Regions from separate parts of the Homo sapiens genome. Here region 1 is linked to region 2. Evidence: fine-mapped expression QTL. A gene starts in region 2. The other region holds a variant in brackets. All regions are shown on one strand. Distances are between the middles of the regions.

The links.
Region 1: its variant is fine-mapped to the expression of ANKRD44-AS1 in whole blood (INTERVAL, PIP above 0.99).

The regions. Positions count from the first base shown.
Region 1 is chr2:197,312,407-197,329,091 of GRCh38, forward strand. ANKRD44-DT (ANKRD44 divergent transcript) reads left to right here. Exons shown (of 4, transcript XR_923750.3): 1 at 1-292; 2 at 1,783-1,911; 3 at 2,063-2,078; 4 at 6,231-6,474. Among named protein-coding and RNA genes, the nearest start is that of ANKRD44-DT, 9.7 kb to the left of the region's middle. The variant A/AC (reference allele first, on the strand shown) is at 8,383.
Region 2 is chr2:197,190,464-197,207,148 of GRCh38, forward strand. It overlaps ANKRD44-AS1 (ANKRD44 antisense RNA 1), which reads left to right and starts at 7,528. Exons shown (of 2, transcript NR_135584.1): 1 at 7,528-7,626; 2 at 8,455-8,810. All of the region lies in intron 1 of ANKRD44 (ankyrin repeat domain 44), which reads right to left. RefSeq lists enhancers at 8,574-8,643, 15,276-15,465.

The DNA of each region.
Region 1 (16,685 bases), 120 kb after region 2:
AGTTCTTCACTGCTGTTATTGGTATGTCTATTTACTGAACACCCTGCATGGCTTTGTAAGTAAACTGAATAGGACCCTGCATTCTCTACTTAAATAGAGCCATCTTTCAGAAGAGTGATAACAAATGACTTAATTTGGAAGATTCACTCAAGATCCAATTTGATTCATCGCGGACATGCCTGCACCTAAGTTCCTGGGGCCAAAGTGAGGAGGCAGCAGTTCTCCACCCAATCAGACCATCATCCTCTTTTTGTAACTAGTATCTTTAACACTCCCCTTACTATCCTGAAAGGTAATTTGTGGATAATATTACCTACCAATACAAATTTCAAAAAAAAAAAAACCAGCAACAATATATTGTCCTAATTGTACAATAAAGGAAAAATTAAAGGAGAGTAATTTATAATGAATATGTATTTCAGTAGGTAAGTGGTAAAACACAACTCTCTTTGTCTTCTGACAAAACAAAGCAGTAAGATGCTTCCACCTATATGGAGAGGCTTTGTGAATGAGAGAATTACAAATGCAGACAGATGTGAACATATAGTGTTAGGAATTCAAATATCAAGATTGGTGTTGTCATAGGTGACCTGACTTTGTGAAAGGTTGAACAACTCGTGGCCAAGTTCCAAATAAAATAGGGAGCAGAAGATTTGGCAAAATTTATTGATAAGACTACACTTATCAGAAGGTCTGCTTTTAATGTGTTAGCCAGTACTTTGACAGTGATTCAAACACTTTGTTTACTTCATTAAATGAGACTCAGACTCAGCAGTTGACTATATTCGGTGAGCTTGAGAAGCCAGAATGCCCCTGGTATAATGTAGAGAAAGAAATCCAAAGATTTGTGGAGATGGGAATGTTGGAATAATTTTATCATGTATAATCTGTACAGCCAACCCCTACATATTCCTGGAGAGCCAGATGATGATCTTTATACTGAAGCATTGAAAAATACAGGCCAGGCACCATGGCTTATGCCTATAATCCCAGCACTTTGGGAGGCTGAAGCAGGTGGATCACCTGAGGTCAGGAGTTCCAGACCAGCCTGGCTAACATGGTGAAACCCCGTCTCTACTAAAAATACAAAAAATTAGCCAGGCGTGGTGGCATGCACCTGTAGTTCCAGCTACTTGGGAGGCTGAGTCACGAGAGTCGCTTGAACCCAGGAGGCAGAGGTTGCACTGAGCCAATGACGCGCCATTGCACTCCAGCCTGGGCAACAAAGCAAGACTCTGTCAAAAAGAAAAAAAAAGAAAAGGAAAGAAAAATACATTCGAGAGAGAACGTCAGAAAAACTCTCTAGTAGCTGGATATGATGGTGGGAGATGCTTTCGTTGAGATGGCTCCTTGATTTTTATATTAGTGGGATCCTGCGACAGCAATGGCCAAGTGGCAGCACTTAGCTGGCAGAGACAAGGTGGACACATTTACTGTAATGGACAGCAGAGACAAAGTAGTACTTAAAGGTCTTAACCTACAGGTATATCTGGCAGTGCCCTAGGTTGTCCTAGGAATGAAATAGACGGGCAGACTTTGGAAATAGCCATTGATCTTTATAACAGACAAAACTCTACATCTGCCACCTGAAAGCTCCCTTGAGCCATCAAAATGAAATTATCTTTCATTCAGTTTCCGTACCTAAATGAGTTCACAGACACAGAGCTCCTTGATTAAAAGGGAAGCTGGTCCCCTTCAGGAGGGTCTTGCAGCATTGTCATAAATATATACTACAAATCCTCATCCAAGCCTTATCCAAAGGAACCTGATGTATTTTTCTAGGCTGAGCGAGTACTGGGAAAAAGGAAATACCCAGACATTTGAGGGATCACTGACACTGCTTCTGAATTAATGCTAATTCCTGAGGATTGCAAACACCACTGGATCCACCAATCAAAATGGGGATCTATGGTAGGTGATAAATGAAATTTTTAACTAAGTATAAATCAGTGTGGATCCAGTAGCTCTGCAGACCCAAACTATAGTTATCTCCTCAACTGTTAGTTAGAATAGACATACTCAGTAACTAACAGAATCCTAACATCATTTCTCTGACCCACAGAGTGAAGTTTATTATGGTAAGACAGGCCAAATGGAAGCCTCTGGAATTTCCTCTTGATACCAGAATAGAAAACCAACAACAATGCTCAATCCCTGGAAATATGTAGAAATTGGTACCACCAGAAAAGACGTAGAAGATACAGGAATGATAATACTGTCACATCTCCATTTAACTCACCTGTTGGGCCTATGCAAAAGATCTTAGAGAATAACTATGATTTGTTATTAAGTTGTAAACTTAATCAAATGGTAATGTCAGTTGCAGCTGCTATTCTATATATGCTGTCTTTACCGCAACAAAGCAACTCAGCCCTAGGCACCTGGTGTGCACTATTGATATGGCAAATGCTTTTTATCTATTTCAATTTTCACCAAAAGTTGTTTTCTTTTATATGGCAAGATCAACAGTACACCTTTACAGTCTTCTCTAGGGGATGTAAACACTCCCACTCTCTGGCATAATCTCATCTGCACAGGTCTTGATCACTATGTTAAAGACATCGAGCTGACTGGCCCTGATAAACAGGAAGTAACAAATATTTTAGCTGCCTTAACAACACACATGTGAGCCAGAGATTGGGTATAAACCCCAAGAAAATTCATCACCTTAGTGAAGTTTCTGGAGGTCCAGTGGTCTAGAAAACACCAGGATATTCTCCCCAACGTAAAAGACAAATTACTTCACCTTGTACCATCTACCACTAAGAAAAGAGACACAATACTTTCTGGGTATCCTTGGATTTTAGAGGCAATATGTATCACATCTGAGTGTGATGCTGTGACCCATTTATAGAGCAACCCATAAGGCTGGAATTTTTTATTAGGAATAAGGGGAGAAGAAATATCTGTAGCAGGACTTGATGACCCAGAGGAATCCAATGATACTTAAAGTGTCTGTGGCAAATAAGGATGCTATATAGAGCCTCTGGTGAGCCCTGATTAGATCTACAATGCAGAATTCCTTAGTTGTAGAGCAAGTCATGCCCTCTTCTGCAGATAACAATTTTCTATTTGAGGAATGGTCCCTAGCTTGCTAAGTGAATTTGAATGACTGGCCATGAGACAATCAAGTGACTGCAAGCTCAGCTGCCCATTATGAACTGAGTGTAATCTAATCTACCAATCCATAAGACCAGACATACACAAGAGGAATTCCTCATCAAATGGAAATGGTATGTAAGAGACTGAGCTTAAGCAGGTCCAGAAAGCACAAGTTGCCTTAGCAGGTAGCTCAGATTCCTTTGATACTTACTCCTGGTGCCTCCTTATCTTCAACTTCATGGGGAATTTCTTAAGACCAGTTAACTGATTTACAGACAGTTCTCCTAAATATACTGGCACAAGCTGGAAGTGGTCTATTCCAGCATCACAGTCTCAATAAGGAATGCCCCCGATGACAGTACTGAAGGGAAATTTTCTCAGTGCAAGAAATTTCCAGCAGCGCACCTAGGGTCTACTTTGTCTGGATTGAGAGAGACGGTCAAAGGTATAGATCTACACTCATTCACAGGCAATTATTGATGGTTTTGCTGAATGGTCAGCAACTTGGAAAGATGAGGTGGTCCGGGAAAGAGGTTTGTGGGTGCACCTTTCAGAATAGGCACAAAGTGTGAGGAATTTGTGTGCCATGTGAATGCTCACCACAGAGCATCTACTCTGAGAAGGCTTTTAGTAATTAGGTGAATGACACATTCGGTGGAGTGGGCCTCTTTCTCCACCTATTGCAGTGCTTGCTCAAAGTAGCCATGGAGTCAGGAATAAAGACTATGTTTGGGCTTCAAATCTTAGGCTTCTCTGCAGTAAGGCTGATATCTGACAACATCAGAAATCACACATTGAGAGGCACCATTTCCAAGGGAGACTAGTCAGCCATGTGGTAGCAAATTGATTATTTTGGAACCCTTCCTTCATGGAGGGAACAGTTACTTGTCTTCACTAGAGTAGACACATATTGTGGATATGAATTTGTTTTCTTTTCCTTTCTTGTTTTTTTTTTTTTTTTCAGGTAGGGTCTTGCTCTGTTGCCCAGGCTGGAGTGCAGTGGCGTGATCTCAGCTCACTGCAATCACTGCCTCCCAGATTCAAGCGATTCTCGCACCTCAGCATCCTGCATAGCTGGGATCACAGGAGTGTGCCACTACGCCCAGCTAATTTTTGTACTTTTAGTAGAGACAGGGTTTCATCATGTTGACTAGGCTGGTCTCAACCCCTGGCCTCAAGTGATCCACCCATCTCAGCCTCCCAAAGTGCTAGGATTATAGGTGTAAGCCTCCATGCCCAGCTGATATGGATTTGTGCCCAGCGAGTGTTTCTTTTCTTTTTGGAGATGGAGTCTGGCTCTGTTGCCCAGGCTGGAGTGCAGTAGCATGATCTCGGCTCATTGCAACCTCCACCTCCGGGGTTCAAGTGATTCTCCTGCCTCAGCCTCCAAAGTAGCTGGAACTACAGGCATGCGCCACCACACCTGGCTAATTTTTACATTTTTAGTAGAGATGGGGTTTCACCATGTTGACCAGGCTGGTCTCAGAACTCCTCACCTTAGGTAATCTGCCTGCTCCGCCTCCCAAAGTGCGGGAATTACAGGCATAAGCCACCATGCCCGGCCCAGAGAGTGTTTCTGACAGAACTACCATCCATGACTTATGTTGTATCTTACTCACTGTTATATAGTCTACACAATATTACTTCTTTCTGAGGAACTCATCTCATGGCAAAAGAAATGCAGCAAAGGACTCATGTAAATGGAATTTACCAGTCTTATCAATACCTCATCAGCCAGAAGCAGCTCACCTGGAAGGATGATGGAGTTCTACTGAAGACTGAGTTCCAGCACCAGCTGGGAAACACCACACTAACATAGTGAAGTTACCTCTTGGAGGACACAGAAAATGCTTTGAGTCAGGAGTCAGTACATAGTACTGCTTCCCCCAAAATACAAGGTCCAAGAATCAAGGGTGGGGCTGGGAGGGAGAAGGGAGTGGTGGTTGTAGTAGAAGTGGTTCTTTTCATCATTACACCCAATAATCCACTCATACAGTTTTTGCTTCCAGTGCCTGTTTTGCTTTGAGCTCTGCTGGTTTGGGGGTGTTGCTTCCCAAGGGAGGGTTCCCACCAGGGATCACAATTATGGTTTCATTGAATTAGAAGCTAAGACTGGGATGTGTCCACTTTCGGTTCCACATGCTATGGAAACAACAGGAAAAGCAGGGGTTACCTTTCTGGGTGGGGTTACTGATTCCCATTATCAAGAGGAAATTGGTTTGCTACAACACAGTGGGAACAGGGAGGACGATGGGGACAGGGAGGACGATTGGGACAGGAAGGACTATGTTCTGGATTTTCTGTGGTACCCCTTAGCACTTCCATATCCTATAATAAAAGTTGATGGAAGCTACTATAATTTTTTAAAAGGATTAAAAAATGGATTCAGACCCTTCAGGAGTGAAGATATGAAGAGAAGAAAAGGGCCTCTCTTCCAAGCTTTTCGTTCTAATAACTAACCTTTTCCCATTGTTCCCAGCCCTACTGGTGGTAGCTGCTTCTTAAAGTTACTATCTCTGTGTTCCCTTTTTGTTTTTTCAGTCCTCTAACACCTATTTAAACAATTCCCCATATTAAACAGGACTATTTAAGCAATTCCTCATATTAACCCTTTTCTTGTTTAGAAACAAAAGTATAGCTGACTGGGCATGGTGGCTCATTCTTGTAATCCCAGCATTTTAGGAGGCCGAGGCGGGTGGACCACTTGGGGTCAGGAGTTCAAGACCAGCCTGGCTAACATGGTGAAACCCCATGTCTACTAAAAATACAAAAAAAAAAAAAAAAAAAAAAAATTAGCTGGGCGTGGTGGTATGCACCTGTAATCCCAGTTACTAGGGAAGCTGAGGCGGGAGAATCGTTTGAATCCAGGAGGCAGAGGTTGTGGTGAGCCGAGATCGCACCATTGCACTCTGGCCTGGGCAACAAGGGCAAAACTCCATCTCAACAACAACAACAAAACAAACAAACAAAAAAAAAAAAGTATAGCTCACTGCCTGCACTCATTTGATTTTACATAAACACGCCCTTTGAGGTTGAAGCAAATCTGATTTTCAATGTGAAAATAAAATCTAAAAACTGTTCTTGGAGTTATTTCTAAACAGAACTAACATCAAAATCATCTATTTCAGAAAAATCAGATTCATCAAGTGACTCTTCAGTCAACAACTGTTCAAGAACGCTGTTAACATCACGTGTAGGAATGCTACGTTTTCTAGAATTTGACATTTTCAGCAATCGAGAATTACTATATTTTGTAAACAGAAATGCCACTACTAGAAACAGAATGCTATAAATAGAATGACGTCTTTTGTTTTCAAGGTCAATATGTCAGAGCGATGCAAAAATAATAAAAGTGAGATATTTCATGGCAAAGTTATCTCAGGGTAAACATTGCATCCACAAGCGCTGCTGGCGCATATTCTCGGGGCAAACGGGAAAGGGTTATTTCTGTTAAAATAATGTAGGTTGAGCCAGGTGCAGTGCTCACACTTGTAATCCCAGCACTTTGGGAGGCTGAGGCTGGCGGATCACTTGAGGTCAAGAGTTCAAGACCAGCCTGGTCAACATGGTGAAACCCCATCTCTACTAAAAATACAAAAATTAGCTCCGTGTGGTGGTGGGCACCTGTAATCCCAGCTACTTGGGAGGCTGAGGCAGGAGAATCGTTTGAACCTGGGAGGTGGAGGTTGCGGTGAGCAGAGATCATGACATTGCACTCCAGCCTGGGTAACAGAGCAAGACTCCATCTCAAAAAATAATAATAATGTAGATTGTTTTCCTGACTAGATCCTGACTGATACCACAACACAGTTACATTCCTAGAATGAAAAAAATCTAAACTAAACTAAAACATTGTGTTTATATGTAAAACGGGTTAAGTTCCAGGCTAAGATAATTGCAGACAGATTTTTACCTACATGAATATCCAGTGGGACATTTGAAAGACCACTTTCCAGGACAGCTAGCATCTTTAATTTCCAATCAATAGATGCTTGGGCATTCCATTCTTTGTGACAACCAAATATGTTCTCTCAAATTTCAAAAACATTCCCTAAAGAGCAAGGCCGAGAACTGTGTACTGTAGTGACCATAGCCTATGACTTTACTAAATCTACCCAATATACCATATCACATTTCGCTATGGTTGTTTTATTTACTTGATGTATGCTTTTTTAAATTTTATAAATATAAATGTGCACGTAAATGTGTGTGTATATCTGTATATCTGTGTTTGTATTTTATATGTTTATATAAAACATATGTATTAGTCCATTCTCATGCTGCTATAAAGGACTGCCCGTGACTGGGTAGTTTATAAAGAAAAGAGATTTAATTGACTCACAGTTCCACATGGCTGGGGAGTCCTCACAATCATGGCAGAAGACAAAAGAGGAGCAAAGTCATGTTTTACATGGTGGCAGGGAAGAGAGCTTGTGTAGGGCAACTCCCCTTTATAAAACCATCAGCTCTCATGAGACATATTATCCACTATCATGAGAACAGCATGGGAAAGACCCACCCCCATGATTGAATTACCTCCCACCAGGTCCCTCCCACGATAAGAGGAAATTATAAGAGCTACAATTTAAGATGAGATTTTGGTGGGGACACACCCAAACCATATCAACATATAAACTTATGAATACACAGTATTTCACTGTCGTGGATGCTGTAGTGTGCCACCCAGTTCCCACATTCAGGACCAAAGGCTTTATGCCCCCAACTGCAGAGAGTGTTGCCTGCTGATAGCTTGAAGCTGATTCTTCCTTCAGGAATTACCCTCAGTCAGAAGCAACCACCTCACCTCATTACAGTCCCTCCCTTGAAACTATTCATATCCAGTGAATTTGAGAGTACAAAGGCCCAGCCCCTTTTGCCTCAACTAAGGACATCTCCGAAAGCACATCTTAGCTCCAACACTCCCTCTGGGATCTGCTGGGGCCTGTGCTGCAAATGCATCACAGATCAACTTCTCCTTCTACCCAGTCCTGCTCTCCTCATCCCCACCAGGGTTGTGCCTGAAAACATTCCCCAGTAAATAACCTGCATACAATTCTCCATCTCAGAGACTGTTGCCTGGAGAACCCAACCCAATATAATTATATATTTTGGCTTCACACTAGTGGCTTAGATAGTTCATCCTGTTTGTAAATAAATCAGAGCCATCTCCCTGACCTGGGTGCAAACCACAAGTAGAGGCAGATAATGATGATTGCTGCATGAGGTTAAATCCTGATGAGGCTCTGCACTCTCTTCACACGGAGACTTTTCTATTTTGAA[A/AC]TATTGTGCCCCTTGACTGAATGGCTAAGTTACAGAAGATCCACAGATGTCTTAGGGGTATCAAATGACCTTCACAAAACAAAACCAAGGGCCTATCAATCTAGGCTAAGGAAATTAGAACATTTCCTCAATGTAATTTTTATTAACGTATATCTGTAAGCACTGTTTATTTCTGCACCTACAATGGTTCCTGGATTCTAAACAGTCATGGAGTTTAAGTTTGTAAAATTGGTTTAAAAACAACTTTTCAGAGAGCAGAAGATGAAATTTTTCACTCCATGAAATATCCCATATTCTATGAGCCAGCACATGTAAAGCACACATAACGGAACCTGGTACAAAGTAAATGCAAGATGAAATACACCATACTCTGTGAGTCAGCACATGTAAAGCGCATGTAACAGAACCTGGTACAAAGTAAGTGCAAGATGAATGTTAGCTATTATATCTATGATATTAAAATGTGAAAAGATGACACCTTAGAATTGAAGAAATACGGTTTTTTAAATCAATATTATAAAGTTACTTTTAGTGTTGATTTGTTGAAATTTATTATCTTTATCCCAGGGAATGCCTTCCTTGGCTCTTGATCCTTATTTTCCTTGACCTGCTAACAAACTTATAAACAGTATCATTCGATTAAATATTTCATTGTTTTATTTGCTATTGATCATCTATTCTCTTTGTTTTATGGGTGTTAGCCTTCCATAATTTCACATGCTTTGTTTTTTATATGTGTTGTTTTTCTCATTATAAACTTCTAATGGGTACTAGACATGCCTTACACTTCTTTGCATGAATTCGATAAATAATGACAAACTGCTTGATTTTAAAAGCATGCAATTGGAGGCAATATTAGCTGGCAATTCTATTCAATATATACTAAGTTTTTCTGTGAATGCCTACTTGTAATCTCACCTCCTACAGAAAGTATAAAAACCAACAACAGAAAAAACAATTGAGAAATAGAACAAGTAGAAGGAGTAAGTTAGCCAGGCACAGTGGCTCACATTTGTAATCCCAGCACTTTGGGAGGCTAAGGTGGGAGGATCACTTGAGCTCAGGAACTTGAGACCAGCCTGGGCAACATGGTGAGACTCCATCTTTACCAAAAATACAAAACTTAGCAGGGCTTGGTGCAGTCCCAGCTACTTGGGAGGCTGAGGTGGGAGGATGGTTTGAGCCCAATAGGTGGAGGCTGCAGTGAACTATGATCATGCCATTGCACTCCAGCCTGGGCAACAGAACCAGACCCTGCCTCAAAAAAGAAAAAAAAAAAAAAAGAAGTAAGTTATTACAGTGCCTCCTCTGAGGCATTGCTGAAATGAATATTGTGTTTGTTCTGTATTAAAACTTCTGCATTTTACTGTGGTTTTAAAAATGTTATTCCATTTATTTTTAACTTCTTCAGACAGCTGTCCTGGAAAAAATAAAACAGTGGAAGGTGAGAAAGTAAGATTCACCATAGAATACAAAGGGATAAAGGAGGGAGGAAAGAAGAGAAGCTGCAAAGAAATGTAGATGGAAGCACCAAGCTCCTTTAAAAGAGAGAAAAACCCTGACTGGGCATTTTAGCATGCAATTATGGTCCTTAAACTTCACCAGGACACTGTAGAGTCTCAGCAACCATTCTCAACCTTCCTGCAGAAAATTGATAGCCCAAATTCACATTTTTTTATTTTATTTTATTTTTGAGACGAAGTCTCACTCTTGTCGCCCAGGCTGGAGTGCAGTGGTACAATCTTGGCTCACTGCAACCTCCGCCTTCTGGGTTCAAGTGATTCTCCTGCCTCAGCTTCCCAAGTAGCTGGGTTTATAGGTGTGCACCACCATGCCCAGCTAATTTTTGTATTTTTGGTAGAGACAGGGTTTCACCATGTTGGCCAGGCTGGTCTCAAATTTCTGTCCTCAAGTGATCTGCCCACCTCGGCCTCCCAAAGTGCTTGGATTATAGGCATGACCCACCGCACCAGGCCCAAATTCACAAAATTTAAATGCCCCTCTTTCTTCTCCTTCACAGCCAAACTTCTCAAAATAAATGTCTCTTTTTTTCTGATCTCCACTTCCTCACCTCCTCCGCCACTCCACAGGGTGCCCCTGAGCCCACTGTCCTGAAACCACAATGACTCTGATCAGTTCCACACAGGTCCATGCTGACAACACTCTGTCTTAGACCCTCATTGTTTCTCCCGACCTCCAGTCCCACCAAGCTGCCTGCTTCTCTCTCGGATGTCTCAAAATCACCTCATACTCAGCATGTCCAAAACAAAAATTAATAATCTTCCTCCTCCAGTGTTCCCCCCTCCTCGGTAAATGACACCACCCTGGACCCAGTGTTGATCTAAGAACAAATGCTGGGGCTCACACTTGGTATCTCCGTTTCCCTCTCATCTCTCACATCCTGCCAGTTACCGAGTCTTGTCAATCCACGTTCTTTAAATCTCTTGAATCTGTCCCTAACTCTGATCTTCCTGGACCTCACTCCAGGCCAGTCTCATGTTTATCTACTGATTGGAAGGCTGATAAGCATTGGTTTCTTCTGATCTATTCTCCACCCCACAGGCAGAACAATCTTCTGAAAGACAAGCCTAATCAAGCCACAACCCCTCCAATGGCTTTCCATTGCCTTCAGCCTGTTTACAAACACCTCAGCATGCATGATGTTCAGAGTCCTCACATTCCCCACCCATCATTCTTCTTGCAGAGAAGCCACATTGCTCAACTCTGGGGGATGCCATTCCCAGCCTAGTCTGTGAATGATAACTGCTGGAGTAGTGCAGTGCACAATCTGTGTGCCTAAACAGGGCAACCTTGCCTCCGTGTCACACTTTATACACTGTGCTGAAAGCAGCTCCCCGATGCATATTTCTTCTCTCTCTGAGCCTTTGCATATTGCTGTTTCCTGTTTATACTTTTACCCACCTCGATATCATTTTCTTCTGGTTAATCTTGTACTTCAGATCTCAGTTTAGATATCACTAACCCCATGAATTTTCCCTTACTCACTTCACCTCCCAAGTTTGGATTAGGAGTATCCCTAAGGTTTATGTTTAGTGCCCTCTGCTTAACCCCTATTATTGTATTTATCCCTTCATCCTATAATTGCCGGATTACTTTTCTGTCTCCCTCTTTTAGGGCATGGACTGTGTTTAATCCACCTTGATGTTTCTAGTTCATTGTATAGTATCTGGCACATAGTAGATACAGAGCAAATACTTTTGAATGAATGTAACTTTGAGTAAATAATTTAATCTCATCAAACCTTAGTTTACTACTAGTCAAATGAGGCTAAGGATGCCTGTCCTCAATACCGTGGAGAATCATATAATAAAATGTATATGAAAATGCTTTGAAAAATGGAAAGAAATACGTAAATGAGAGAGAAGGAGACTGAACAATTGGTATGGCATTATGATAATGAGAAAGTGACAAGGAATGAGATGATTTTCTGCAGAGAGAAGCAAGAGAGACACATTTCCACCCTATCATGTATAAGAACTAATGCCTGTGCTGCTGAAGTGAGTGCAAATTCTGCATCTTATTTCTGAACTAGGATGAGAAGCCAGAATGTTTCAAAAGGTGGGAAATGAGGAATGTAGTAATCAAGCTACAACTTCCGCTTATTAATTGGTCACACAACCAGTGCTGTATATTGATTTATATGTCATATACATAATATATATCAATTTTGTCACACATATTAAGATATATATGTTATTAAGATCAAGTTTCTGATATTTGTTCATTTATTTAATTAATTAATTTTTGTAAAAAAGACCAAGTTGCTGAAAATGGTGAACGAGGGGCTCAGATAGTCAAAGAATAAACACAGCCCTTCTTCCTTGGGCATCAGTTGGATTTAATGATTCGGGGAATTAAGTCACTTAACTTGGTAGGTAACTTGAAGCAGTATTTTCATATTTACATAAGCAAACAGATATAGTATGGCATGGAGTGTAACATTTGCATACATCTTTTAAATCAACCTGAGACCCCACGCATTTTGTGTTTGCAATGGACCTCTCCACACTATCTCCCTCCAATCCACCCCTCACCAAACCTTCACACTCCCAAGCTCTAGGAATAAGTCTTTATTCACTTATGCTCTTTGAGGGCCTAGGAAAAGTTTAATAAGTGTTGCTTTTAGAAGTTTGGTGACCTTCTATGCTGCTGAAATGAAACAAAAACAGAAACCTGGCTCAGGAACTCTCACAAATGTGGCTGGTACACTTATATCCAGGGTCAAGTTTATAGTTGATTATTAATTTGTGGGTCTGCTTTCTGTTCCTAGCTTACCCATTAAACTGTTGAACAATTTTGTAAATATTGGTCACTGGTCCCCAGAAGAATCAAAAATTTCTAAATATAGAGGAATTAGTGCTAACTGTCCACAAGAAAATAATTCCTTTTGTTTTGTTTTGTTTTGTTGAGACAGGGTCTCACTCTGTCACCCAGGCTGGAGTGCAGTGGTGCAATCTCAGCTCACTGCAACCTCCACCTCCCATATTCAAGCAATTCTCCTGACTCAGCCTCCCAAGTAGCTGAGACTACACTACAGGAGCCCGCATCAAGCCTGGCCATCAAGACTAATTTTTGTAGTTTTTTGTAGAGATGGGGTTTCACCATGTTGGCCAGGCTGGTCTTGAACTCTTGACCTCAAGTGATCCACCTGCCTTGGCATCCCAAAGTGCTGGGATTACAGGCATGAGCCACCCCACCTGGCCAGAAAGGAATGCTAAATTCATAATTCCTTGCTGTTAGGACACAGTGGCATCATAATCTTTGTATATAACGGTCAACACATTATATCTAAAGGAAGGAGAGGGGCCGGGCGCAGTGGCTCACGCCTGTAATCCCAGCACTTTGGGAAGCTGAGTTGGGCGGATCACGAGGTCAGGAGATCGAGACCATCCTGGATAACACGGTGAAACCCCGTCTCTACTAAAAATACAAAAAAATAGCCGGGCGTGGTGGCAGCTGCCTGTAGTCCCAGCTACTCAGGAGGCTGAGGCAGGAGAATGGCGTGAACCCGGGAGATGGAGTTTGCAGTGAGCCGAGATCATGCCACTGCACTCCAGCCTGGGCGACAGAGCGAGACTCCGTCTCAAAAAAATAAATAAATAAATAAAGGAAGGAGAGAAGGGAACTAACATTTATTGAGTCTCTACTATGTGCCATCCACAGTGCTAGGTGCTGTAAATTCCTCACCATCTCTCCCTCACCACCCCAGACACAGTTAATCCTTTGTACAATGTCTATACCTGATATAAGCACTTCTATTGGACTTTCCACTTTAAACAACAATGAGTTGTCTGTTTCCCACTCTAGTGTAGACTCTTCGAGGGCCAGGCTCATTTTAAATTCACCTTTTTATCCCAAACATACACCATACCTGATCACATAATACATCTTCAGTTAAAATTTTTATTAGCTAAACAAAAGTTACCTCTTCCAATGTTTAGGACATTGTGAAGAAGCTAGTGCATTCTTCATTCTCCAAAAGTCAGCTGCTCATTCTAAATCATCTTATACAGTTCTGTCCATTAAGGAAATGTAGAACATAGCATTATGTCAGTTTTTTGCTGTTTTCAGGTCTTGGAATATTTCCAAGTCTCTCTCCTGACCCCCAGCCAAAAAAAAAAAAAAAAAAATCATAGACTCAATCTATAACATACACTGCCATTGTTTGAATGTGTCTCCTTCAAACTTCATGTTGAAACTTAATTCCCATTGTAGTGGTATTAAGAGGTGGGGCATTTTAGGAAGTGATTAAGTTGTGTGGGCTGTACCCTCATGAATGGATTGGTGCCTTGTAAAAGAGCTGGAAGGAGCTAGTTTAGGTCTTTTCTTGCCCTTCAGCCTTCTGCCATGTGAGGACATGGTATCGCCCCATCTGCCATGGGAGAATGCAGCAAGAAGGCCCTTACCAAACAACAAATGGCTGCATCTTGCCCTTGGACTCCCCAACTTCCAGAACTGTAAGAAATCAATTTCTATTGTTTACACATTACCCCATGCAAACAGCTAAAATGTGTACCATACACACTTTTTGTTTTCTTTACAAAGCACCTTTTTCAATAACATAATAGGTACTCTGTGAAATACATTTTTTTTTTTGAGACCGAATCTCTCTCTGTTGCCCAGGCTGGAGTGCAATGGTGCGATCTCAGCTCACTGCAACCTCTGCCTCCTGGGTTCAAGCAATTCTCTTGTCTCAGCCTCCCAAGCAGCTGAGACTACAGGTGCACGTCACCACGCCCGGCTAATTTTTGTATTTTTAGTAGAGACAGGGTTTCACCATATTGATCAGGCTGGTCTCGAACTCCTGACGTTAGGTGATCCACCTGCTTCAGCCTCCCAAAGTGTTGGGATTACAGACGTGAGCCACTGTGCTCAGCCAAAATAAGTCTCTAAAGTAAATTATTAAGTGTAAATGTCCCCAGTTTCAGTGGCTTTAACCAATGACAGACAACAAGACTGAAATCACACTGCTTATAGAGGATTAAATATCCTCTGATTCTGAAATACCAAGTCTGAACTTCTGAGTCTGTAACCACAAGATGATTTTTCTTCCTCCCCAAATTTAAAGTAATCAAAACATGGAAATTTCTTCCTCTCATCATTGCACTTTAGAGTGTATGAGAAGTGTGTACCATATACATACACATACACACACATGAGCATAGAAGAGGAAAAATAATTAGAAAGTAGGGGACTAGTCAACACTCTGATTTAGAACCAGCTCAACTTTATGATTTCAAAAGTTTTGAACCTAATCCAACTCCTCTGAAATTCAAAGTTACTTGACATTTGGTATATTGTGACTTCCTGTTTTTGTAAAAGAACATTTTCAAAAATGGTTCAATGAGCTCTTTGGACAGTCTCTAACTCCTATAATGCAAGATTTGGAACATTTGGTGGTAAGTAAATAAGGAACATATGCAATATATTTTTTAAGATGTGCATATTTTCCAAAACTCAGGGGGAAAAATACTTGGCCAAGTCTATCTGTGGTTTCATTGAATACTTGAAAATTAGTTAATGACATTCAGAGACACAAAGATACAGCTGGGTTTTTCCATCCAGTCTGTGGAACATGTAGCTGTCAACCAGCAATGATAGAACCCATAGGAAAGCACCCTCAATTTCTGTAGAAACAGGAAAGAATTAAGATTTACTGTCTGGCACTTTGGTGGTTGGATGTAGCATTTGCAAGGAAATTAAGAACAAAGCAAAAGAGTCCCGAAATGTGCTTGCATGTTTCACATTTACTCTTTCTCTGCTGTGTAACTGCCAGTGCATGGCCCATGGTGAAAAATAAGCTGGCAAATATAAAATCCACCAAATAGTCTCTGGTAAGTCTTTAGGAGTACTGCAAGGTCTACAATAGATCTTACTGACATGCAAAAACTTTAAGTGAAAAAACTCTTAGAATGCTGCAGGTAGGGATATGGAGCCCTAATTCCTCAAGCCCCAAGAGCCTAAGGTTACATTAACAATTAAACCCAAATATGTTCCTGGCTATGAGCTCCCTACCTCCACTCCAGACCCTAAGTGATGCTAGAAAGTCATAAGGGTGTCTCACAAGTGTTGAGGAATAAATCAACACTAGGAACTGCTACTCTCCCTCAGGGATTTGCTGGGAACCTACTGAGTCTGCTGAGCCCCTGCAACCCCTTGCCATCCCGTTGTCTTGCCACTGTTCTGCTGAAGCTCAGAGAAAAGATATTCTCTTCATAATAGTCATCAGTGCTGCCAAACCTGTAAAAATCTTTGATATGCTGAGTGACATTGCTAACCCTTCAGGCCACATAGGGCCAATGCTATGCGCTGGTCCATGCAGAAATGTGGATACCATAGTCTCTCTAGAGAATTCATACCTACTGCATGGGTCTGAAGCGATGGAGACCAAGCAGTATACTGTCCTCGCACTTCCCTCTCTCTCATCTCTGAATGTAGGAACGATCTTGCAGACTTTCCTGTGGTGTACTGTGAATTGACACCACTTAACCAGTTTCAGCTCAGACACAGTCAGAAACATCCTCTATAGTTATTGTCAAGAAGTTCATTTTAATTTGATAACTTTATGTGGTTAAATAGATGTCAAATTGCCAAAGCATGGAAGAGAAAGGAAATTAGAAAACCAGAAGAAAAATACAAATAGATATTATTCGTTCTAATGATTTTTCATACTATAATACACAATGGTCAAAGAATCAAAAGAAAAACATGCGATCCAATAGGTGTTCGATAGGTATCAAAAAAGCATTTGATAAACTCAGCATTCATTGATAATTAAGAAA
Region 2 (16,685 bases):
GAATGCATAATGATTCTTGAGCAAGTAATATTTATTTTTTAAATATTATGACTGCTTCTTCTTTTTTTCTCTCCACACTCCCAAAAACATTCCCAGAGAGCACTTTGGCACTCCTTTTTGTTGGAATTTTAATGAGATCCTGCTGTTTTATTTTTCCCCAGGTAAACACTTAACCTAAGAAAAAATATTGGGGAAAAGATATATCTAAATACTATATTATATGATGTTTAAGGCAAAGAATATTCTAATTACAATATTCTTGCTCATAAGTATTAAGGACATATATTCTGTTGTTCATTAATTTGGCAACCATCATAACTTTTGCAGCTTTTGTCTTAACTTAAATAAGGCTTAGAAGCAAAGTCCTACCTGCACAAGAGCAGAGTCCCAAGCCTTGGCATATACAGATATTTCTTTTTAAAGTTTCACACATTTTAGCACTAGCATATATAACACGAGTGCTTTGTGTACAGTAGGGTACAGAGTTGAATAAATACAAAATTGTAACAAGGGTCAAAATTGAGAAAAACAAATAGTGGTAGGAAAAAAGGAGATTCAGATACCATGAAATCATTGATCATCATCCCCTAAAGAAATTTAAATTCCTAAGAGAGGTATGCAGTCTTTTTAGCTTCAATTGCTAGAATTTTCTTAGCATGCTTAGCAGCTGCAAAATGATTGTCAGTGCTGCAGATATTGGTGCAGTGCCTCTGGTAGATTCAGAAGACAGAAGGACACTTCCTGGGCCAAATTTACCAAAAGCACAAGTGGGATTTGTTGTTCAGATGGGACCTGTCCTTGCCTTCAAAATCACCAACAACTAGCCCCCTACTACCTTTCCAGGAGTGTTGACGGCTGCCTTCTAGAGGTGAATGTCTGCCAAGCTGATGACACTTGACCCCTCTAAGATAGAAATGGGGAACAGAAAGACCCCTTGATCTTATAAATTTTGTAGCTGAACTTGCTAACCCTTGGAACTGAAATCTAATCAGCCGAAAGCCACTTTCTCTACCCACATCCCCTATCGGCACATCCAATAAAATATTCTGTTTTTATTCTCACCCTGAAAACAAACTGGGAAAATACCAGACTTCCAAAAATAAAATGCTAAATCAAATATGTACTAGGGATAGTTATTCTCAAACTTTGAAGTAGAGTCAAAATTCCACTAGGGGGAGCAAGATGGTAATTTGTTACCTGGGAGGTAAAAGCAAAGGTTCAGGATGTGTAATTAAGGAAGTAAGGTAATTGAAAAATCCACTTCATTAAAAACATAAAAGAACTCAAGCTTCTGAAAGAGTTCTTAGTCATAAGTAAACATGCACACCATGCACATACTAAAACAAACAAACAAAAAAACACCAAACACAAAAAATTCCTATTGATCCCTGAGGATCCAGGTTTTAGAAATAAGAATAAAACTATCTAAAACCTACGTGCTAAGGTATCATTTTCATCATCTGTGAAATCCAATTCAATTATTATGTCAATTCCATGAAAAAAATATGCTACTGATGTCATCAGACACACCCTCCATTTAAGAATGAAGCCCATCATGGGTTCTACAAAGAGAGCCAAGCTAGTTTAGAGTATCCACTCCATCCGGCTATGAAGTCATCAATGCCCTCCCACATCCCGCAAAATCCCCTAATGAAACCACCATTTTGATTTTTGCTAAAACCACTGTATAGTATATTTCACTTTCCCTTTGCCAGAGTTGCATGCTCTGTACTAATGAATTGGCTTTGGAAGATAGGCAGAGTGACAGAGGCTGTCATTGAGCATTGGTAACTACAGTCAATGGTAATAAGCCCAAGCAGCATCCAGGGATGCTCCAGCATTTCATTCTAGATCCTGGTGTGTTGCTTGTGTTTTTCTGATTAGATCGGGAAAATAAAGACTCCAAGTCTAAAAGAAAAACATTTTGCATTCCAATCAGAAATGGGTGTTGGGAATCAATCAATAGCCAAGAAGGAAAATTTGATATTCCTAAACATCTGTCCCTCCTTGAGCATTCTGAGTACATATGTCATTAAAGTAAGATGGGAGTGTGTTATCAGTAGCTGATAGCTGATACAGCAATAATCTAGCCATATGAAGCCATCAACTTATATGAACAAGCTGAAACACTTCGTTAGGTAACAACTGTTTTTTGTAGGAGCCAGTGCTTGCACTTTTGTGAAAGGATAATAAAAATTTGTTCAAGTCACTAGATTTAATGAACAAAACCTGCTAACTGAATTCATGTGAGTTCTGCTGTATGATCTCCTGCAAGGATTTCATTGAGTTCTTCCTGAATATAGATCACCCTTTACTTGAGAAGTTCACTCCATCCCAGAAAGATAATGATTATCATAAAATCAAAATCTGTTCCTCTTAAGTACCATAAGGACAATACAAAAATATACTGAGTCCTTATAAATACATTTTTTAAAAAATCAGGGAGTGAGGCAGGACTGCATGTCTGAAAATGTCTCCTACAGGCTATGCTGCAGAGTAAATATATATAATATTTTCCATTACTATTAAAAACAGAAAAAACATAAAATTCCATGTTATAGTCATGCCCTCCAAGTAGCATATTTGTTAACTCTATATTTAACATTATGAAAAAAGAATTACATCTAATTAGAAAATGGAGAAAATTAATTTATTACCTAATCTTTTCCCAATGAAAATAACACATGGGTACTGACTATGAAATAGTTACTCAAGGACCAACTACCCCAATTACCCAATTTTTGGAACATTTAATCCTTTGTTGCTCCTTCCTTTCCTGAGATTCTCTTTGGGTGTTTCTCTGCTCTTTAATACCACTAGTTATCACCCTCACCCGATGGCCAACCCAAAGTAAAACAAAATTCAACTTTGTTACCAGTTACAGACAAAAAGTTGGGCCAAAGGAAGTGATGGAATAACAGTATCAGTTAAATTGAAATCTGGAGGCAATGTTAATTTTTATTGATTAAAATGTTAATTTTTATTGACCTCCTTTTTTTCCATAGTAGAAAGATTAATGCTATGGTATCAGACTGACCAATTATTAAATCCAATCCATTTCCGTTTCAGTTTTCTCATCTCTAAGATGGGGTTACAATAGCCATTTTATAGATGTGTTTAAAAAATAACGTAACGGCCAGGCGCGGTGGCTCACACCTGTAATCCCAGCACTTTGGGAGGCCGAGGAGGGTGGATCACGAGGTCAGGAGATCGAGACCATCCTGGCTAACACGGTGAAACCCCGTCTCTACTAAAAATACAAAAAAAACTTAGCCGGGCCTGGTGGCGGTCGCCCGTAGTCCCAGCTGCTCAGGAGGCTGAGGCAGGAGAATGGCGTGAACCCGGGAGGCAGAGCTTGCAGTGAGCCGAGATCGCGCCACTGCACTCCAGCCTGGGCAACAGAGAGGGACTCCATCTCAAAAAATAAATAAATACATAAATAAATAATAAAAAATAACACAACATATGCAACACCCCCAGCACGGGGCCAGATGCCTGGTGTGCACGCAATAAAAACAGGGATGATTGTTTACCTTAACAAGCTCAAAAACCTTCATAGACAAGTACCTTTATGTGCATCCTAAAAAAGGAAAAATAAGAGATCTTGAAAGATTTCCTAAAATACTACAGAGTAAATAAATTGAGTTAGGATTATAACCCACTCAACACCACCTCTAAAGCAGAGGGGCCCATCATATTGGGAGAGAAGCTTTTACAGGCCTGGGAGCAAAAATCAAACTGAGCATGACTTGGCCTTTGTTACACTCAGCAACCTCGAAATTGTCACACAGTCCCTCTGTACTCAGAAGTCTAATCTATAAAGCCAATAACTCACTGAACTAATACATCATTTCTTCTTGACTAATCAAAAGGTAACTGCATATATTCATGCCAGCTTAATGGGACCTGAGATTGTAATTTTACTACTTAAGGTTGTCATAAATACATGTAGTTACACCTTTCTTTTGTGATCTCCTGATAGACACAAAGGAAATGAATTCCCTGTTTGGAGCTGTGACGAAGTCTAATGATTTGCCTGTTAGTGACAAAGTTGAGACTAGAACTTAGTTTTCCTGATTCTCGCAGCTTGGTACTTTCTCTCACATGTAATATAATATATATATAATTCATGATCAGAATTCAGCTTCAGTTTCAACATACCTCCTATGGAGAAATATTATACACTAAGGAAAAAGCTGCCATATATGAGATACATTCTCTCTATACGTATGCATATATATTTACACAAATAGTGGCCAAATGCATATACATAGATAGATAGATAGATATAGATATAATTCCTTGCAACAAAATGGCTAACAATAAAATAATCTTACCAAAAGACAGAAAACAAAGGGCTACAGTCTTTCAAAGTTGAGGGGGCTCCGCATGGGTCTGAGTTATAAAGATGAAGAAGGTAGGCACTAAGCAGAATTTTGAAGGATGAGACTGGGGACTGGAGAGTAAATCTTTCATGTTGGAAAATAATAGAAGATGAAGTTAGAAAAATGAATAACTGGGTGGGGGGAGCATCACATCAGCATAAGAAGCTTTAACCTAATCTTTTTGGTGCAATCATATAGCTCATTACCACCTCAAACTCTTGGGCTCAAGCGATGCTCCCACCTCAGCCTCCCAAGTAATTCAGACTATGGGCACAGGCCACTGTTAAACCTGGTGAATTTTTAATATTTTTTTGTGGAGACAGGGTCTCGCTATGTTGCCCAGGCTGCTCTTGAACCCCTGGCCTCAAGCAATTCTTCTGCCTCAGCCTCCCAAAGAGCTGGGATTACAGTCATGAGCACTGTACCCAGCCTTTACCTAATCTTATGGACAAACAGGAATGGGGGTCATGAGCAGGAGAAAGGAATAGAGTTTTCCCAAGAATTTAATCTGGCCAAAGTGTACACTGAGTACTGGAGAAGGAGAGATTGGAGTTAGAGGCCCAGTTAGAAGGCTGTTGCTACAATCCAAGCCATCACAGGAAAGAACTTTCCCATCTTTTTTTTAATCACAGTCTCCCCAGGTGCTACTTACAGGGATACGGTGAAAACAACAGATATAGTTTTTGGTTCTTTAATGTCTGCTCTATTCCTGGATGCAATTTTGGCCCAGCATCTTGGCCACTTTCCTTCACTCTTTATATATAGCCCAAATCCCTTGCCTCCGAAACACTAATGTTTCCAGGTGAAACTGAGGTTACTTCCTTTAGTTCTGGAACATTTCCATTTTTTCCCCCACAGAACCTCTGCGGATGTAAGCTCTGTTTTGTCAGACTTGTCACTTGATCGCTGAATTTAAATCATAACATTTCAAAAATAGGCCACATCCATAAAGAGAAAGGCAAATCAAAACAAGGCAGACAGCCTTTGCCAAGTGCCATATTTCTATCAGGATCTGCTGCCAACTACCCACAGATTTTTTCACTCTGTCTAGTTTCAAATGGCTTGAGATCAAACCTAAACTTTAGCTAAGATAATTAAATTGTGTTGGGGAGTTAACTTTTAAAGAAAGCTAATTTGGGCAAAAAGGACAATGGATCCAGGAGGTTAGTTCATACAGAACATTTAAATCCATGTAATTTTAGTGAAACAAAAAGAACAACTATATATACTTCTGCAACAGTTTCCTGTTTTGAAAAATTGGTATAGAGGTTTTATTTCTCATCTTGGCTTGGGTTACATTCTTTGTATAACTGTATCTTACTGCATATTGAATTCATGTAGTTGCAAACATGAGAGGTGGATTTAATAATGTTAATCAATATAAACCACTTTAGTGATCTTTGTGGGGAAAAAAGAAAAATGGCCAGAAGATGATTTTCAGGGTTGTAGGTATATTCAGTATAATTTATTTGTCTGTTCAAATAGAGACAGCAGTTCAGTTTTAGGGTGCACTGGAAAACATGACTTTTTATTACTACCTGGTATGTGCATCACTTATAAAAAAGACAACAATAAAAAAGTATTCCTTATAAAAAATAGCAGAAAATGATCCATAACTACAGAAGTATCTTCTTGTGGTCATGAGTAATTTTAATTTTTGAGAATCTCACAAATTGGAAGCTAAATAAAGCAATTCAAGTGTCCTTTAAAAACAACAACAAAATCAGCATGTAGAAATGAAAGGTACTCTCAGAAAGGTGGCAATCTCCTGCTACATTTGAGGAGGCTGGAACTACTGTATACAAGATATATGGATTAACTCAGTCACATTAAATCATTCATGATTTAGGCAACTCCAGATTGGGTTTGTCTAAAATCTGTTAGCACCTGGGTTCTTTCCAAACACCAGCAAGCAATTTTTACACAATCAGGTCTTTCCAAAGCCCATGACAATTTTCCTTTAAACCCTCTCCTTCCCTTCTACTGTTCTTTTCTTTGAATTCCACGTGCATTCTTGGAAAGACAGCAAGCAGTTAAACTCTCACCACCTCTCCACAGGTGAGGGACTAGGGACATGTGTAAAACGGAGTCACCTTCCTGTTCTGGCCATTGTCAATTTTTTTTTTCCTAAGGCATCTTGTTATAGCAACCATTCTAAAATTGTTATAGCAACCATTCTAAAATTTAAGGCAGTGGGTTGATCAGGACCTGAATTAGTTTCTGCCTGAGATGACTGGAAGGTCCCCTACTCCCTCCCCAGCCAGAAAAAGTCACATGGAATGAAAATCTATTAGAGAATCCCCTCAGTGTAGTCTTTCAGGAAGCATCTTCTCATTTCCCCATCCAAAATCATGGTAAGGACATCCAGTGACAGATGTCAAAGGGAAAGGATAAGGCAGCAGGAAGAGAGAGGAGCCTAAGAGACTGGAAAACATTCGATAATATAAAATGGGAAAATGGGAAATTCTGCAAAAAAAAAGAAGTCATATCATATTTCCTTTCACAGACACCAACCCAGTGCGTAGCTCCTTTATTTCTTTACACACTACCCCCTCCAACAGGGGATAAAAGATATGTTTTCTAAAACTTAATTTGGTACATTTCAGATAACCACATTCAATTCAACAAAGATGTATTAAGCATAAGACATTTACTGAGCATAAGAAATTCAGACACTGGAGGCCGGGCGCAGTAGCTCATGCTTGTAATCCCAACACTTTGGGAGACCAAGGCAGGCGGATCACTTGAATCCAGGAGTTCCAGACCAGCCTAGACACATGGTGAAACCACATCTCCACTAAAAATGCAAAAATTAGCTGGGCACGGTGGCGCACACCTGTAGTCCCAGCGACTCGGGAGGCTGAGGTGGGAGAACCAACTGAGCCCAGGAAATTGAGGCTGCAGTGAGCCATGCTCACACCATTGCACTCCAGCCTGGGTGACAGAGTGAAATCCTGTCTCAAAAAAAAAAAAAAAAAAAAAGAAAGAAAGAAACACAGAAAAAGAAAAAGAAAGAAAGAAATTCAGACACTGGAATGTCAGAGTCAGTCTCTCCCTTGATGAGGTTACCAAGGTGTAACAGGAAGTATACAAATACGCACAGCTAGAATGTAAGGCACAGGCCGCAGGAGAAGTGCATGGAGAAGGGAGAGAAATTGTACCTGGCCTCCTGAAAGACGCAGCCTCTGAAATGAATATTGAAGACTGGGGAGGATTTAAACAGGTAGAGACGGATGGAATGGTAAGGGACTTTCCCTTCTTCATATTCAGAAGGCTGTGAGCAGAAGCTAGGGAGCCTGAACATACACAGGGAACAGTTTCATTTGGCTGGAGGAGGGGAGAAGTGAGGTAAGCTGAGTAGTAGACAGGGATCCTATCATGGAAGGTCTTGAATACCAAGCTAAGAAATTTGAGCTCTCTTCTGTGGAACTGGGGGAGCAGTGGGTGGTTTTTGAGCAGGGGAGTGACCTAAGATTTGTGCTTTAGAACAATCACTCTAAAAATGGATTGTATGATGACCTGGAGGAAAAGGCTGGAGTGTCATAACAAGTTAGGAAACTGCAATAATAGTCTGCACAAAGGGCTCTGGGGATGGAGTACCGCTCAGTTGTCAGAGGAAGCATTCTTCTGGTGGTAATATGTGAATCTAAAAGGTAAATTTGACCGGGCATGGTGGCTCACGTCTGTAATCCCAGCACTTTGGGAGGCCGAGGCAGGTGGATCACCTGAGGCCAGGAGTTTGAGACCAGCCTGGCCAACATGGTGAAACCCCGTCTCTACTAAAAATACAAAAAATTAGCCAGGCATGGTGGCGTGCCCCTGTAATCCCAGCTACTCGGGAGGCTGAAGCAGGTGAATCGCTTGAGCCCGGGAGGTGGAGGTTGCAGTGAGCTGAAATCGTGCTACTGCACTCCAGCCTGGGCGACAGCAAGACTCCATCTCGAAAAATAAAAAATAAAATAAAATAAAATAAAATGTAAATCTAGCTCCACCTTTAATGTAGCAAGGGCTAGCCTCCTCAGGAGTGGCTGCCTACATTCAAAACGATTCTCACCAACTTCTTCCACAGGACACAGGGCTCGGGAGCAGCGCCAGCCCGACATCGGCGGAGGAGCACCGGAAGTTCTGCAGCACTGGCTTTCTTTGCTCTTCCACCTATGCAAGCTCCTTCTCTCTTGTGGCTTGCCGAGCCTGGTTAGCTCTGAGACCGGAAGTTCTGAAGTCAGCTGGCATCCTACATCTGTGCAACCTACTTCTCTCCCCATCCCACCACAGAAACCAGAGCCTCGAGGCTTTTGGCTTGGGTGCTGCCTTCACAGTTTAGGTTTTGGTAAGAAGAAAGCTTATCTTCATGTCATGAGAAAGAAAAAAAAATGTATCTTTACGTAACGAGCTGAAAGAACAAAACAAGTATACCTAAGCCAAGTACATGCTATCTTTATTTCTTTATTTCCACACTGAAATTTAGTCAGGGATAAAACTTACTTTTTTAATCACACGAAGTTTGAAAAATAGGAAGTACTATGGGAAACACCTAATGCATCAAAACCCCTGTGCATTTTATCTTTGTCTTATGTTTGCTGGATTTTAATCTTAGTAGGTTTCCTGTTGCAACAATACAAAAACAGATAAAGAAAAAACTTAATAACCTTTCCTACCACAAATGTGAACAGCCCGTGTTCTTGTTGGTAGGTACAGATACAGATATATGAGATTATCGTTATTTATTATCAGAAAATGGGATTTTACTATTTCCCACACACACACTTTTTTTGAGATGGGGGTCTTGCTATATTGTCCAGGGTGGTCTCAAATTCTTGGGTTCAAGCGATCCTCCCACCCAAGTATCTGTAATCCAAGTAGTCTGGATTACAGATGCATACCACCATGCCTGGCTTATTTCCCTCTCTTACAATTTGCAAAAATAATGATGTACTGAGGACATCCCCCAGGTCGATAGCTACAGGATTAAATCATTTCTCTTAATAACTATATATAATACTATTCCATTGTATGGATATGCCATAACATATTCAATTATTCCCCTTCGAATGGGCATTTGGGTTGTTTCTAGTTTGTACCACAACAAACAAGCCTCTATCAGTGCTTATCCACATTGCACAGAGAAGTGCTACCAGAGCCAAAAGCATTTTCTGAGTACCTACAATATGCTATTTTTATGAAATATACAAAAGAAATGTGTGACATAGTCCTTTCCTAAAAGACTGCCAAATATAGTTGGGGAAATAAGCCTAACCCACACAAAACACTTAAACTGTGTAAGACAGTACTGAACCATGTTCTACAGACCTCATGCAAATGGATGCCAAGTTGTCCTTCTGCACAATGACAGATTGGAGAGGTAATCTGGAGGTGCCTTTAGCCATAATATTCTAGGAGCCTTCTTGATTCAGAAAAGGGGAAGCATGAAAGGCTAAGAAGCCAGAGTGGTGTCTCTGGAGGAGGCAGGACTTGAACAAGGCCTGAACATGGTTTAGATGGAGGAAGGAAAAAAATGTATTTTGGAATGACAAATGAGGCAGGGCACAGCACTGACTTTAGACATGTATATGCTCAGGAGAATGTCCTGAGTTACAGCATTTCTAAACACCCTCTTCTCATACTCCTCCCACCACCACCACTCGCCAGACTCTGCTTAAAGATATAAAAAATTCCCAAGCTTGGCTGCTGCAGAACATCACACTAACACTAATTTAAAATGCACTACTTCCAGACAGCACGAGCTTGAAATTACCTCCAAATCTCTTCCTTCCCTGTCCTTCTCATGCCCTATGCTACCCCCTGCCAAAACACATACAACGCTTGCTGTGCCCTTCAAACAACAGTAGTCATTTAAGCTGCTCCTGCCCATCTGGAAAATAATATGAATAACATGAAAGAAAGCAATAATGAAGTGACTGGAATTTAGCAACCAAAAAGACCTCAGTTCTTTTGATAATCAAAAACTTTGTTAAAATGTTTACATCGACAGTCACTACAGTGTTGGTCTTTCACTCTATGTTGCAATAGTATGTTTGCAACTTCTCCAAATCCATTTAAATGAAAATATTTAATAACAAGTTTTAAATTTTATCAATTGTTAAATATGATTTGAAAGTTTAGTGTATGTCCTGATATATAGTATGCCTTGAGACTGAATATAAGTAGCTCTATGGGAAAATTCTGAAAATGAATTAGGAATAAGTAGATTAATGTGCTTTTAGTCTCAAAGACTAGAGATTAAAAAGGCATGGGTAATTTTTAACTGAGAGGTGGTGCCACAGAGAAGTCTATGATTCTCTCTTTTTCATTACCCATCCCAGTTTAAAATTAGCTTGCAGCATGTTTTTTAAACATTAGGAAAACAAGATGCACTCCCAGAATGTTCATGTGAAGGGCACGTGTGAAGACATAATCTTGACAGTCATATTACAGAAAATAAGGGAGTGAGTTACTGAGTTTTTAACAAGGAGAGTAAGTTACTGAGTTTAAATAAAACCTAATTTGCTGTGTGTTTTTATTTAGCAGAATTTTGAATGCCCGTTGCCTCCGTGGCACTAGGCAACCACAAAGGCAACTGAGGTCTGAGACAAGGCATCAGGGAGATAGGATCCTTTGGCCTCCTCTGGCCCAACTGACATAACTGAGGTTGGTTCCTTTCCTGGTATCCACACTCCCCTCTCCTCACCAACAATCCCCCTGACGTTGGCTCTGAATGATGTGGAGACCCTGTTAGTGTCGTCGCATGTTAAATCTAGATTTGGGAATCTGCACTGCACACCTTATGTCAAAACTCAGAGCTGTTGTTTTTATATTTTGTTTTTGTGTTTTGTGTTTTTATTTCAGATGCAGGGGATACATGTGCAGGTTTGTTACACAGGTATACTGTGTGATGCTAAGGTTTGGGCTTCTAATGATCCCATCGCCCAAGTAGTGAACATAGTGCCCCATAGGTAGTTTTTAATCTCTTGCCCTCCTCCCATCCTGCCCCCTTTTGGGATTCACAGTGTTTACTATTCCCATCTTTGTGTCCTTGTGTACCCAATGCTCAGCTCCCACTTGTAAGAACATTCATAGCCACTGTTACCTCATCACCATGTAACATTCCAAGGGTTTAAAATGCACAATACAATCATAGTTCTTTTGAGATCATGGTTGACTGTCCTGACAAAGGAGAACTTTTAGCTGCCCCTCCTCCACCCAGGGATAGAAGTGGACTTGGTGAAAGGCAGGTGGCCTGTGACAGCAGTGGCCTGCCCAGGCACGCAGAGGCTTGCTCTCACTTTTAGAGTACTTGGTACATTTGGCACTGTGCAGCAACTTTTTGCTTCTTGAATTGTGACCAATCAAAAATGATGAAACAAGGCCATTGAAGGGAGTGGAAAGAAATTAACTGATGCGCCAGGAGTCCTGGTCTACCCTTGATCAGTAGGTGTTACATAACGGAGGGCAAGTCACAGAGCAGGCAGAAACCTCTGTTTTCTTACCAGAAAAGATAGGTCCAAAATGATCGACTCCTCCAAGAACAATAAGGGAAAAGATGAGATTTCAGATGGAAAAAAAAAAAACCCAATAAGGGGTGGTCTAGGTGACTATAATCTCACTCTGCCAGAAGAGCTAGACGACCAAGCTTGATGCACACAGCAGGGGAAGTAGCAGGACCAAGCTGCTCAGAACTGGTCAGAGTAGTGGACAATTTCGTGCAGATCTTACAGGCCTCTTTTTTGTTTTTTGTTTGTTTTAAGATAGGGTCTTGCTCTGTCCCCCAGGCTGGAGTGCAGTGGCATAACCACAGTTCACTGCAAGCTCGACCTCCCTGGGGTCAGGTGAGCCTCCCCCATCAGCCTCCCAAATAGCTGGGACTACAGGTGTGCACCACCACACCCAGCTAATTTTTCTAAAAAATTTTTGTAGAGAGGGGGTCTCGTCATGTTGGACAGGCTGGTCTTGAACTCCTGGGCTCAAGTGATCCACCCGCCTTAGCCTCCTAAAGTGCTGGGATTACAGGTGTGAGCCACCACGCCTGGCCTTTTTTTTTTTTAAGACCTAAATGGATGCAGAAGAAATTTGGCTGATGTTTTTTGGCTGGATTGCATATCAAAATCCCCTGGGAAACTAGGTCCCACCCCAATAAGCCTGAGGTAGTGTTAGGGATGCAAATCCTAGCACAAGCGCTTGCAAAGGCTCTCCAGGTGACTCATACAGCTTCAACATACATGCAGCACTGAATCTGATTCTTCATCTCAATACCTTCGAAATCCTACTCCTTTGACCCCACAGTCCCTCTTCAGGGAGGCTGTCCTATAGAAATAATGAGATATACAGACAATTTTTGTATAAAGATGTTCATAACAACACTATTTATGACAGGAAAAATTAAAAGGGAACCAATGTCAAAGCTAGGGAAATTATTGAGCAAGTTATAATATATAAACCAAAAAAGATATACAAATGGCCAAAAAGCACATGAAAAGATGCTTAACATCAGTCTTTAGAGAATATAAATCTCTAAGAACTACTTCACCATTTCTGGTGTGTGTGAGATACCATTTCACACACACTAGATGGCTAAAACAAAACAAACAAACGAAACCCAGAAAACAGTGTTGGGAAGAATGTGAAGAAATTGGAACATTGCTGATTGGAATGTATAATAGTGCAGCTGCTGTGGAATTTTATTTAGCTATTTAGCTTGGTAGTTCCTCAATAAGTTAAACATGGAATTACCATATAATTCAGAAATTCCACTGCTATGTGTATATCCCAAAGAACTGAAAATAGGTGTTGAAGCAAAAACGTGTACCTAAATGTCCACAGCAGTACTATTCACAACAGTCAAAAGGTAGAAACAACCCAAGTGTCCACCAACCGGCATCAACTGATGAATGGATAAACCAAATGTGGTACAGCCGTAGAGTAAAATATTACTCAGCCATGAAAAGGAACAGCGTATAATGATAGATGCTACAACATGGATGAACCTTGGAAACATTATGCTAAGTGCAAGAAGCCAGACACAAAAGGCCACAGGCTGTATGATTCCATTTATATGAAATAGCCACACATAGAAACAGAAAGCTGATTAGCAGTTACCAGGGATCGGGAGGGAACGGGAAGTGACTGCTTCATGGATACAGAGTTTCATTTGGGGTGGTGAAAATGTTCTGGAATTAGTAATAATGGCTGCACAACACTGTGAATGTACCTTTTAAAATGGTTAAAATGGTAAATATCATGTTAGGTGTATTTTGCCACAATAAAAAAAATTATGATACATAAAACAGAATATTTTACTTATTAAAATTGGCCTTTTGAGGGAGTTTAATGAGATGAGGAAAATGTGGAAAAAAAGCAGTCTATGAAACTATATACAGTTTGATCTCAGCTTCATAGCATATAAATATGCACAGAAAAACAAGGACTAGAAGAAAATTTATAAAAATGCTAAACAGGGTTATTGGCAGATACACTTTCTTTTTTTGTAATTTCCAAATTTTCTATAATATTATGTTTATTATTATTGTTAACTATCATTTTTGTAAACATAAAAAGAAAAATTTTCTTTAAAGATGGGACCACTGACACTTTGCATCACAGCTAGGAAAAGAAAATGAGAATAACGAAGGGTCTGGAAACATGTGACATAATGATTCAGGTAGGGGGCTAGACAAGAGCATAGAGTGGTGAAGGCTGCAACAATCTGGAGAATTTATGTCCTGTCCAAAGATAAAATTGTGGCTCCAGATCTTTTGAGTTTTCAAGAGATGCCAGAGCTCCAGACGTTTCAGTGAAATGCCCTGATTTTTAAATGTTGGCAACTTATTCAATATTTTTCAAACACCACAGGCCAAACAAAACACATCTGTGGACCGGATGTAGCCCGCAGGCTCCAGTTAGCAAATTCTAGTTTATAAGAACAGGAATGTTTAGGCTGGAAAAGAAAAACCTTTGAAGGGATATAGTACTAGTAACATCAAGTATCTGAAAAATGACTATGTGGAAGATGGTGTAGGTTAATTCATGTGTCTCTAGAAGGCAGAACCCGATCTAAAGGCTGGGTGTTATCAGAGAAGCAGAATGGGGCACAGTCTATAAGGGAGAGGTCTCTATTAGAGCAGCTGTCCAGCAAGAAACAGCTTCAAAATGCAGCGAGCTGCCCATCCCTGATGTGCTCCAGCAAAGGCTACATAACCAGGATTCCTGCTTTGGGTCAGAAGTTGGACTAGGTCAAAAGCTCCCAATTGTGGCTGCACATTAGAAACTTGAAACAAAGCATACAGACTCCTGGACCCTGTCCCAGAACCACAGAGTAAGGTCCAGGAGTGTGTATTTTTAAAAAGCATCCCCTTTGGGTATATACCCAGTAATAGTATTGCTGGGTCAAATGTTATTTCTGGTTCTAGATGATTTAGAACCACTTAATCTTTGACTGTAACACTGGAATTCTAGTATTCTGATCCATGGTTTTACCCACCTGGCCAGTAAGGAAGGGAAGGAGGGATTGAGGAAAGGAAGAACAATGTACCAGAGCTCATTATGGAGCAGGCCCTGTGCTGCTTTCCTTATGTCATCTCACTGTATTTTTCAGAACAACCTGGTGAGTTGCGAAGTGATGTCCTCCACCCCATTTCCCTGAGAAAGAAACTGGGGCTTGGGGAGTTTGGGGATGGCCCAAGGTGACTGCCAGTCACTGGGAAGATCTTTCCAGCTCCAGATCCCATGCTAGTTCAACTATGCCATATTGCCCTCTTCTTGCCCACTCAACAATCATTTCTCCAAGTGCCGATGGTGGGCCAGGCAATGCATTAGGTGGCAAGGATTCTGCAATGATCAAGATACAGTCCCAGGCTCAAGAAGCTTCGAATCTAGAGAGGAGGAAGAAAAGTAAACAGTGACATCACGGTGGAAGCAACAGGGTCATATGGGAGGGACACCCAACCCAGCCTTGTGTCATCAGGGAAGGCTTCAGAGAGGAGGTGACAGCTAAGCTGGGGAAAAGAGATTCCTAGGTGAAGGTGTAACATCTACAGAGACCCAAAGATCAGAGGGAGCCTAAGCCTACCAGGTGTGGGGAAATGTGACTAGTTCAGAGGCTGGAGTGTGGGATGCAAGGAGTGAAATTGTAAGGTGGGGCTGGCCACGCTGAGACTTTGTCACTAACCTCAGAGAAACAGGAAGCAAGTAAGACTGAACAGAAGGGGGTGACATATGCAGATGCACATTTTAGTAGCTCAGACTGGCTGCGGAGAGGAGAATGGATTGGCGGAGAGAACACAAGGGAGGCTGTGGCAGTCATTCAGCTAAGAGGGGATGACAAGCCACACAAAAGTGGTGGCACGACAGAAGATGTGCAGCATAGAGATGATGTTTTTTCACTCATTCTTTCAGTAAATAATATTACAGAGCCCTTCTTATGTGCTGGCCATTCTGCCTAGGCTGGACATACAAGCATGGGTGAAAACAAACATAGTCTCTGCTGCCGTGAAGTTCACACTGTTAGCGCTCTGCTAGGGAAAAGATGTTTAGGGAAGTAATTTCAAAAGTATTAAATAAGGCAAGGCGTAGTGGCTCGTGCCTGTAATCCCAGCACTTTGGGAGGTAGAGGTGGGCGGATCACCTGAGGTCAGGAGTTTGAGACCAGCCTGGCCAATATGGCAAAACCCATCTCTACTAAAAATACAAAAATCGGCCAGGCATGGTGGCACACGCCTGTAATCCCAGCTACTCGGGAGGCTGAGGTAGGAGAATGGCTTGAACCTGGGAGGCAGAGGTAGGAGAATGGCTTGAACCTGGGAGGCAGAGATTGCAGTGAGCCGACATGGCGCCACTACACTCCAGCCTGAGCGACAGAGCGAGACTCCTCCGTCTCAAAACAAACAAACAAAAAGCATTTTGGTTGATTATGTTATCAATAATAACATAGTAGGGAAAGGATGTACAGGACTGGCTCCTCCATCATCAATTGTCAAAGAGTCATTAAGCATAGGAGTCACATAAGATAAATCTAAAGAGTTATTGCAAGGCCAGTACTCTTTAGAATTACGTCCCTCATGTTCATACATAACAGTGTCAATCAGACTGTCTGCTCTCAGTGTATTTCATTCAAGGAAAGTAAGAAAAATTTACCTACATTTTAATTCATCATTCTTTGAAGAGAAGTGATGGATTTAAAAATCGTGATAAGATTTTAAGCTAATAAATTAGGAACATTCTCAAAAACTTACTAAATGTGGCCGTGCACTAAATTAAATTAAAACTCTTCTTGTGGCATTTGAGATTGTTGCTAGGTGCTGAAGAAGC